2 separate regions of the Homo sapiens genome follow, and region 2 is linked to region 1. The links come from fine-mapping of genetic effects on gene expression. Tissue or cell type: monocytes. Region 1 holds a variant in brackets; the other region holds the start of a gene. All regions are shown on one strand. Distances are between the middles of the regions.

The links. PIP is the estimated chance that this variant, and not a neighbour inherited with it, causes the effect.
Region 2: ME1 starts here. The variant in region 1 is fine-mapped to the expression of ME1 in monocytes (Fairfax 2014, PIP 0.95).

Annotation. Positions count from the first base shown.
Region 1 is chr6:83,287,454-83,292,606 of GRCh38, reverse strand. The region is part of intron 6 of ME1 (malic enzyme 1); the gene reads left to right. Among named protein-coding and RNA genes, the nearest start is that of RWDD2A, 97 kb to the right of the region's middle. The variant A/G (reference allele first, on the strand shown) is at 2,244.
Region 2 is chr6:83,428,845-83,433,997 of GRCh38, reverse strand. It overlaps ME1 (malic enzyme 1), which reads left to right and starts at 2,947. Exons shown (of 14, transcript NM_002395.6): 1 at 2,947-3,121. The coding sequence starts at 3,044. RefSeq lists enhancers at 1,532-2,731, 2,674-2,843, 3,464-3,733 and a silencer at 3,054-3,243.

The DNA.
Region 1 (5,153 bases):
GAAGCACTGCCTCCTCAAGTGGGTCCCTGACCCCTGTGTAGCCTGACTGGGAGACACCTCCCAGTAGGGGCTGACAGACACCTCATACAGGCGGGTGCCTCTCTGGGATGAAGCTTCCAGAGGAAGTATCAGGCAGCAATATTTGCTGTTCTGCAGCCTCCACTGGTGATACCTAGGCAAACAGGGTATGGAGGGGACCTCCAGCAAACTGCGAAGTAACTGCAGCTGAGGGGCCTGTCTGTTAGAAGGAAAACTAACAAACAGAAAGGAATAGCATCAACATCAACAAGAAGGACATCCACACCAAAACCCTATTCGTAGGTCCCAACATCAATGACCAAAGGTAGATAAAACCACAAAGATGTGTAGAAACCAGAGCAGAAAGGCTGAAAATTCCAAAAAACAGAACACCTCTTCTCCAAAGGAACACAACTTCTCTCCAGTGAGGGAACAAAACTGGATGGAGAATGAATTTGATGAATTGACAGAAGTAGGCTTCAGAAGGTTGATAATAACAAACTTATCTGAGCTAAAGGAGCATGTTCTAACCCATCGCAAGGAAGCTAAAAACCTTGAAAAAATATTACACGAATGGCTAACTAGAATTACCAGTGTAGAGAAGAGCTTAAATGACTTGATGGAGCTGGAAAGCACACTACAAGAACTTCGCGAAGCAAACACAAGCTTCAATAGCCGATTCGATCAAGCAGAAGAAAGGATATCAATGATTGAAGATCAAATTAATGAAATAAAGCGAGAAGACAAGATTAGAGAAAAAAGAGTGAAAAGAAACGAACAAAACCTCCAAGAAATATGGGACTACGTGAAAAGACCAAATCTACATTTGACTGGTGTACCTGAAAGTGACAGGGAGAATGGAACCAAGTTAGAAAACACTCTTCAGGATATTATGCAGGAGAACTTCCCCAACCTAGCAAGGCAGGCCAACATTCAAATTCAGGAAATACAGAGAACACCACAGAGATACTCCTCAAGAAGAGCAACCCGAGACACATAATTATCAGATTCACCAAGGTTGAAATGAAGGAAAAAATGTTAAGGGCAGTGAGAGAGAAAGGTTGGGTTACCCACAAAGGGAAGCCAATCAGACTAACAGTGGATCTCTCTGCAGAAACCCTACAAACCAGAAGAGGCTAGGGGCCAATATTCAACATTCTTAAAGCAAAGAATTCTCAACCTAGAATTTCATATCCAGCCAAACTAAGCTTCATAAGTGAAGGAGAAATAAAATGCTTTACAGACAAGCAAATGCTGAGAGATTTTGTCACCACCAGGCCTGCCTTACAAGAGCTTCTGAAGGAAGCACTAAACATGGATAGGAACAACTGGTACCAGCCACTGCAAAAACAGGCCAAATTGTAAAGACCATCAATGCTAAGAAGAAACTGCATCAATTAACAGGTGAAATAACCAGCTAACATCAAAATGACAGGATCAAATTCACACATAACAATATTAACCTTAAATGTAAATGGGCTAAATGCCCCAATTAAAAGACACAGACTGGCAAATTGGATGAAGAGTCAAGACTCAGTGGTATACTGTATTGAGGAGACTCATCTCACGTGCAGAGACACACATCAGGCTTGAAATAAAGGAATGGAGGAAGATCTATCAAGCAAATGCAAAGCAAAAAAAAAGCAGGGGTTGCAATCCTGGTCTCTGATAAAACAGACTTTAAACCAACAAAGATCGAAAGAGACAAGGCCATTACATAATGGTAAAGGGATCAATTCAACAAGAAGAGCTAACTATCCTAAATATATATGCACCCAATACAGGAGCACCCAGATTCATAAAGCAAGTTCTTGGAGACCTACAAAGAGACTTAGACTCCCACACAATAATAGTGGGAGACTTTAACACCCTACTGTCAATATTAGATCAACAAGACAGAAAATGAGCAAGGATATCCAGGACTTGAACTCAGCTCTGGACCAAGTGGACCTAATAGACATCTACAGAACTCTCCACCCTAAATCAACAGAATATACATTCTTCTCAGCACCACCATACACTTATTCTAAAATTGACCACATAATTGGAAGTAAAACACTCAGCAAATATAAACGAACAGAAATCACAACAAACTGTCTCTCAGACCACAGTGCAATCAAATTAGAACTCAGGGTTAAGAATCACACTCAAAACCACACAACTACATGGAAACTGAACAACCTGCTCCTGAATGACTACTGGGTAAATAATGAAATGAAGGCAGA[A/G]ATAAACACGTTCTTTGAAACCAACTAGAACAAAGACACAATGTACCAGAATCTCTGGGACACATTTAAAGCAGTGTGTAGAGGGAAATTTATAGCACTAAATGCCCACAAGAGAAAGCAGGAGAGATCTAAAATCGACATCCTAACATCACAATTAAAAGAACTAGAGAAGCAAGAGCAAACATATTCAAAAGCTAGCAGAAGACGAGAAATAACTAAGATCAGAGCAGAACTGAAGGAGATAGAGACACAAAAAAAACCTTCAAAAATTAATGAATGCAGGAGCTGGTTTTTTGAAAAGATCAACAAAATAGCCCTCTAGCAAGACTAATAAAGGATAAAAGAGGGAAGAATCAAATAGATGCAATAAAAATGATAAAGGGGATATCACCACCAATCCCACAGAAATACAAACTACCATCAGAGAATACTATAAACACCTGTATGCAAATAAACTAGAAAATCTAGAAGAAGCAGATAAATTCCTGGACACATACAACCTCCCAAGACTAAACCAGGAAGAAGTTGAATCTCTGAATAGACCAATAACAGGTTCTGAAATTGAGGCAATAATTAATAGCCTACCAACCAAAAAAAGTCGAGGACCAGATGGATTCACAGCCGTATTCTACCAGAGGTACAAAGAGGAGCTGGTACCATTCCTTCTGAAACTATTCTGATCAATGAGAAAAAAGGGAATCCTCCCTAACTCATTTATGAGGCTAGCATCATCCTGATACCAAAGCCTGGCAGAGACACAACAAAAAAAGAAAATTTCAGGCCAATATCCCTGATGAACATTGATGTGAAAATCCTCAATACAATACTGGCAAATCAAAAAGCTTATCCACCACGATCAAGTCAGCTTCATCGCTGGGATGCAAGTCTGGTTCAACATATGCAAATCAATAAACAAAATCCATCACATAAACAGAACCAATGACAAAAACCACATGATTATCTCAATAGATGCAGAAAAGGCCTTCAACAATATTCAACAGCCTTTCATGCTAAAAACTCTCAATAAACTAGATATTGATGGAACATATCTCAACATAATAAGAGCTATTTATGACAAACCCATAGCCAATATCATACTGAATGGGCAAAAACTGGAAGCATTCCCTTTGAAAACCAGCACAAGACAAGGATGCCCTCTTTCACCACTTCGATTCAACCTAGTATTGGAAGTTCTGGCCAGGGCCATCAAGCAAGAGAAAGCAATAAGGGGTATTCAAGTAGGAAGAGAGGAATTCAAATTGTCTCTGTTTGCAGATGACATGATTGTATATTTAGAAAACCCCATCATCTCAGCCCCAAATTTCCTTAAGCTGATAAGCAACTTCAGCAAAGTCTCAGGATACAAAATCAATGTGCAAAAATCATGAGCATTCCTATACACCAATAACAGACAAACACAGAGCCATGAGTGAACTCCTATTCACAACTGCTACTCAGAGAATAAATACCTAGGAATACAACTTACAAGGGACGTGAAGGACCTCTTCAAGGAGAACTACAAACCACTGCTCAAGGAAATAATAGAGGACACAAACAAGTGGAAAAACATTCCATGCTCATGGATAGGAAGAATAAATATCATGAAAATGGCCTTACTGCCCAAAGTAATTTATAGATTCAATGCTATCCCCATCAAGCTGCCACTGACTTTCTTCACAGAATTAGAAAAAACTGCTTTAAATTTCATATGGAACCAAAAAAGAGCCTGCATAACCAATACAGTCCTGGGCAAGAAGAACAAAGCTGGAGGCATCACACTACCTGACTTCAAACTTTACTACAAGGCTACAATAACCAAAACAGCATGGTACTGGTACCAAAACAGATATATAGACCAATGGAACAGAACGGAGGCCTCAGAAATAACACCACACATCTACCACCATCTGATCTTTGACAAAACTGACACACACAAGCAATAGGGAAAAGATTCCCTATTTAATAAATAGTGTTGGGAAAACTGGGTAGCCATATGCAGAAAACTGAAACTGGACCCCTTCCTTACGCCTTATACAAAAATCAACTCAAGATGGATCAAAGACTTAAATGTAAGACCTAGGACTGTAAAAATCCTAGAAGAAAACCTAGGCAATACAATTCAGGACATAGGCATGGGCAAATACTTCATGTCTAAAACACCAAAAGCAATGGTAACAAAAGCCAAAATTGACAAATTGGATCTAGTTGAACTGAAGGGCTTCTGCACAGCAAAAGAAACTATTATCAGAGTGAACAGGCAACCTACAGAATGAGAGAAATTTTTTGCAATATGTCTATCTGACAAAGGGCTAATATCCAGAATCTACAAAGAACTTAAACAAATTTACAAGAAAAAAGCAAACAACCCCATCAAAAAATGGGCAAAGGATATGGACAGACACTTCTCAAAAGAAGACATTTATGCAGCCAACAGACATATGAAAAAATGCTCATTATAACTGGTCATTAGAGAAATGCAAATCAAAACCACAATGAGATACCATCTCACTCCAGTTAGAAAGGCAATCATTAGAAAGTCAGGAAACAACAGATGCTGGAGAGGTTGTGGAAAAATAGGAATGCTTTTACACTATTGTTGGGAGTGTAAATTAGTTCAACCATTGTGGAAGACAGTGTGGCGATTCCTTAAGGATCTAGAACTAGAAATACCATTTGACCCAGCTTTCCCATTACTGAGTGTATACCAAAAGGATTATACATCATTCTACGATAAAGACACATGCACACGTATGTTTATTGCTGCACTATTCACAATGGCAAAGACTTGGAACCAACCCAAATGTCCATCAATGATAGACTGGATTAAGAAAATGTGGCACATATATACTCTGGAATACTACGCAGCCATAAAAAATGATGAGTTCATGTTCTTTGCAGGGACATGGATGA
Region 2 (5,153 bases), 140 kb before region 1:
TTACTCTGCGATTCATGTAACAACATCTGTATGAACATTACAATAACACAGGTATGTATATTTGATCTTTATTTATTTAAAACATTTAATTAAGGGCCCAAATGCATTGGATTAGACTTGTGCTCTCTAATTCGATGGTCACTGGCATGTTACTAAGCATTTGAAATGTGGCCAGTGCAAATGAGATACTCAGTTTAAATTGTATTTGATTTTAATTTAAATATAAAACAGATACTCAATTTAGTCATTGGAAAACTTTAAGGTATATTTGCAACAAGTTAGGTATGAGAGTCTACTATTGCAAATGTAAGTTTTATAAAATTGAAATACAGATCAAATTTCTGATAAAAATTTGGTGTCTAAATTGAGATGTGTTATAAAATGCACACTAGATTTTGAAGACATAGTAGTAGTGTGCTTTTTGTGTGAAGAAATACAGAATCATTTAGTTAATATTATAAATCCTCACCTAGATATGTATTTTTTCTATTAATCTTTTTTATCTCATGAAAGTAAAATATTAGAATTGCTGTATGTACTAAGAGTTATTTCCTGAATTTTCTATACTTGCAATCTCAACTGACATTACATCAGAGTATCTATTACAATCATATTTTATGTTGTAAAAGCTCTTTGTGTGCTAAACTATAACTTGGGAAAGAAAAATCTGATTTTGACTGATGGCATTCTCACCTGTGTATAACAGAAATCTATGTTTTAGTCTCTTAATTTGTGAATGATACCCATTCTTAACATTACCAATTGCTTTCAGAGTGACAGTGCAACCACAGTTTGTTACAAGGCAAATTAAAGCAGTTTTTTTCTCTGCATCTGTTTTCCTACGTTTTTGGAAATAAAACCTAACCTTATGAGATTATTATTTAAAAAAGACTGAAAATTTTGATATTCTAGCTAACATTTATGTAGAAAAATAGGTTCTTTCTAGTATTCTTGGAACTACATATGAATGTACTAAATGGCTTCTTCAGCTAGGCCTTATCCTGTTTCATTCAAGATGACGGCGGTTATTTTAATAATTAAAATAAACATACAGATGAAAGATGTGAACTTTACCTACTACTGGCAGGATATTGTAATCCCCTTGTAATGTTGCCTTTGAGGGAGAGGCCATATACTCTTTGTGGGTTACTCCCTGTACTTATAACACTTTTCCTATCTGTAGATATTAAATCTCAGAAACAGGAACAGGTAGGTAGTATATCTAAATTCATGTAATAAGTACTTTATTATAATAAGGGTCTGTTGTACTAACATTTTTGTTTCTTCTTAAGCAGCTTGAATTGGCTCCCATGCCAGCTGTTAAACTGTTTCCTCTCACATAAAACACCCTAACTGTAATGTGTCTCAGTTAATTCAGGAGAGTGAGTTGTGTAAAGTACACCTTTTTCTTAGATGTTGTAGGATTGAGTATTTATGGAGTATAGAATTAACAATGAAAGGTGTCATTTAACTTCAAGGATTTTTTTCAAAAAGAACTTTGTGATGCCTAGAAAATATTCTCTATAAAAACAACGAATTCTAGATAATTCAGGCGAGGTCAAAGAAGCTTCTAAATGTAAATACGGACAAAATACAATTACTGTAAGAAATCTTTCTGATAAGGCAAAGTTAACATAACTAGAAATGAAAACACTGTGATTGGATGTGTGTCTAGTATATGGAGATATAAAATCAGCAAATAATCTCAAACACTATCCTTTGTAATATCAGTATGCAGAGACAAATGGGACAGAAACTAGCAATCCTATTTAACTGAAAAGGAAACTGGGGCACAGAAGGCTTTAGTGTCTGTTGCTATTAATTTATTTTTATCAGACAGGCACTCCTTTTGGCTATGATCTGACTATTCCTCCAGTCCATGAACCTCCAAGCATAAATATCAATAAAACAATAAAAAAATGGCCCGGCGCGGTGGCTCACACCTATAATCCCAGCACTTTGGAAGGCGGAGGCGGGCGGATCACCTGAGGTTGGGAGGAAGGCCTGAAAGACTGCTTACTCATCATTATTCAGAGAGAGCAGTGGTTCTTGAACATCAGGTTTCTAGAACTCCCAGAGAAATAATATACAAGATAAACAGGACTGTTCATTGGGCCTTTGCACCCTAACACCTTGACTCTTATCTTATTGACATTCAAATACAATTCCGGTGGAAAATCTGTAGAAACTGACAGGTGTGGCGCCTGAGCTCTCCTCTCTGGGCTTCCTCCCAGTTCCCTTGGGCCTCGGCATTCTGGGTCAAGGTTGGTTCCCTCCGGCCTCAGGGCCCCGGGCATGGCCGGCATCCTGGATGGCACGGCGAAGGTTGTGGATCTGTAGAAAGAGGGCTTCCAAGACGCTAACAAGACAGGAGAGACGAGTCTGATTCTCCTCAGCCTGTCGAGGTGTTCTGTCAACAGTTCTGGGGACCCCTCACGAGTCCTTCCGTCCTGTAATCCCCCTAGGTGTCTGAGCGACCGCCGGCTCTGCCTGAACCGCTCAGGTTCGCACCTTCTGGCATCTTCTCGCACTTTCTCCAGCCTTCCCGGGCAGGGGGATCCTGGCCTGACGCTCCCCGCTCCCTGCCCCCGCCCTGGGTCTCTGGGGTCAGCAGAGCCACCCAGTGCACTGCGTTTAGGCATGCCCACATGGAGAGAGGCGACCACAGCGGTGATCATAAGCCCATGGTGGGCAGAGGCCCTATGGAGCCAAGGGCTCCGGCCGCCACCCCCGCTCCGCCACCAGCAGCGCTGCCAGGACTCGCTCTTCCTCCTCCTCCTCACACGCCGGCTCGGATGATCTCCTGCCATGACTCAGCGCTTCTCGCAGGCTGCCCTGCTGGGGACACCGGCTTCGCTCGGGCCCCTCCCGACGCGTCCACCCCCTCTCGCCACCCACGCCCGCCCCCAGCCGCTGGGCCTTTCCCAGTGCGGCCGCCGCCGCCACAGCTGCAGTCAGCACCGTCACCCCAGCAGCATCCGCCGCCTGCACCGCGCGTGCGGCCCGCCCCGGCCTGACCCCGCCGCCGAACCCGGCGCCAGCCATGGAGCCCGAAGCCCCCCGTCGCCGCCACACCCATCAGCGCGGCTACCTGCTGACACGGAACCCTCACCTCAACAAGGTAAACCCGCAGGCCCACCTGGCCGCCCATCGGCCCCTCTCTATCAGGGTCAGGGCCCTCTTGCAGGTCCCCGCACCATGGCCTCGCCCCTCCGCCGCTCCCCTGGGAAGGTTCCCGGTGAGCGGCCGCGGCCTGGGGGGCCTTGGTGTGGGCAGAAGGAAGAAGGACGCCTAATCGGGTCCGTATCCACTAGAGTGATGGCAGGGCAGTGCTGGTGCCTCTGCACCTCGGCATCCCATGTTAGGGATAGAGGTAAAGGTAAAGGTTAGTGATAGAGGAAAAGGTGATACTTTTCGGCAGCTCTTCTCCAAAAACAAGAGCCCAGACAATGAAAGTAGTATCAGACAAAGTGTGTGAATGGAGTGCCAGGTCAGACTCCATGTGCCACTCACTTACTGGTTGCACACACAGTGTGGCAATTATTGGAAGTTGATAAGGCGAGAAGTGGCTCAACTGGTCCTGCCCAGACAGAAACGTGTACTGAGTGCCTTCAGATCACGTTAGCAATCTGGAAATCCAAGTCCTCTCGGTTTCTGGAGTGACACGGTTAAGAGTCTGGGAATGCGTGGTGGGTGGCCTCTGTCTTGGACACTTTGCATGGCTTGGTAGAAGAACTCTGTCCCAGACATGGGACTGTGGGTAAAGCCATTTCTTTTCTTTCTTTCTTTTGTTTTGTTTTGTTTTGTTTTGTTTTTAATTTGGCTTTCTGGAAGTTAAAAAAAAATTTTGTTTAGAGCTGCTCTCTTTTTATTAAAGGGGAATTCAGTGTACACCCTGTTCAGAGACTCCTTTTCGGATCCTGGTAACATTTCATTTTCCTTCACTGGTGATGCAATATAAGCACTCGGGATGTCTCTCAAATAAAAAATACCTCCGAATTTATCATTTTGCTTCCACACTTATTTTACAGCCAGGTTTGTCTCGGGATTGTTCCTTTTGTGTGTGTGTGTGCGTGCGCTTTGGACATTTCCTATTTATTCAGGAGTCTGAAAATGCCATCAGTCAGCACAGAGGTTTGTTTAGTTATTTTGGTTGTCTCTTTGGTGGACTGCATTTCACATTAAGAACAGAAGCTCAGCTTTTTCCTTGTCGTGTTCCTGATGATTTGTTGATCATATTAATGACTTAAAGACATGATTTATTTAACAAGTTATAGTCAGTGTGAGTGATTTTTTTTGTGTGTGTGGTGACAGGCACCTTTTACAAATCTATGACTGTGTGCTATCTGCCGTCATGTAGCATTATTAAATTGTAAATAATTCCAACTTATTTCTTTCTTTAAAATAAATTTAATTGCTAGTTTGATTGTTTTTTCTTTTCTTTTATTATTCTGCAGGTTTGCCACCTATTTTCAGTAGAACAAAAGTAAAATTTGATGTGACAAAACTATTTGTGACTTGTATGTGTCACCTGCCTACTGTAATTTATGACCAAGTTGTGGGTTGACACTTAAGAAGGACCACATGAGTTGTATAACCTGTTTGATTTTCCTCAAGTTGGGGGCAAGAGTGTCTATTAAGAGTATGTAGATGGCATGAGCAATCCCTGAGCAAGAGTAATTATTGCCTTTACTATGCTTACATCAAGAATTTATTATTATTATTATTATTATTTGAGACGGAGTCGCGCTCTGTCGCCCAGGTTGGAGTGCAGTGGCGCGATCTCCGCTCACTGCAAGCTCCACCTCCTGGGTTCACGCCATTCTCCTGCCTCAGCCTCCCGAGTAGCTGAGACTACAAGCGCCCGCCACCATGCCCGGCAAATTTTTTGTACTTTTAGTACAGACTGGGTTTCACCGTGTTAGTCAGGATTGTCTCGATCTCCTGGCTTCGTGATCCACCCGCCTCAGCCTCCCAAAGTGCTGGGATTACAGGCATGAGCCACCGCGCCCAGCCAAGAATTTATGATATAACAATCCTTGTGACTCCTGTTCACAAGGTTACTAGGAATTAAGGATTAATTCCTACTTCAGAATAATAGTATCACAAAGATCTTCTATCAAAGATAAGATGTAACATTAATATGTTAAAAG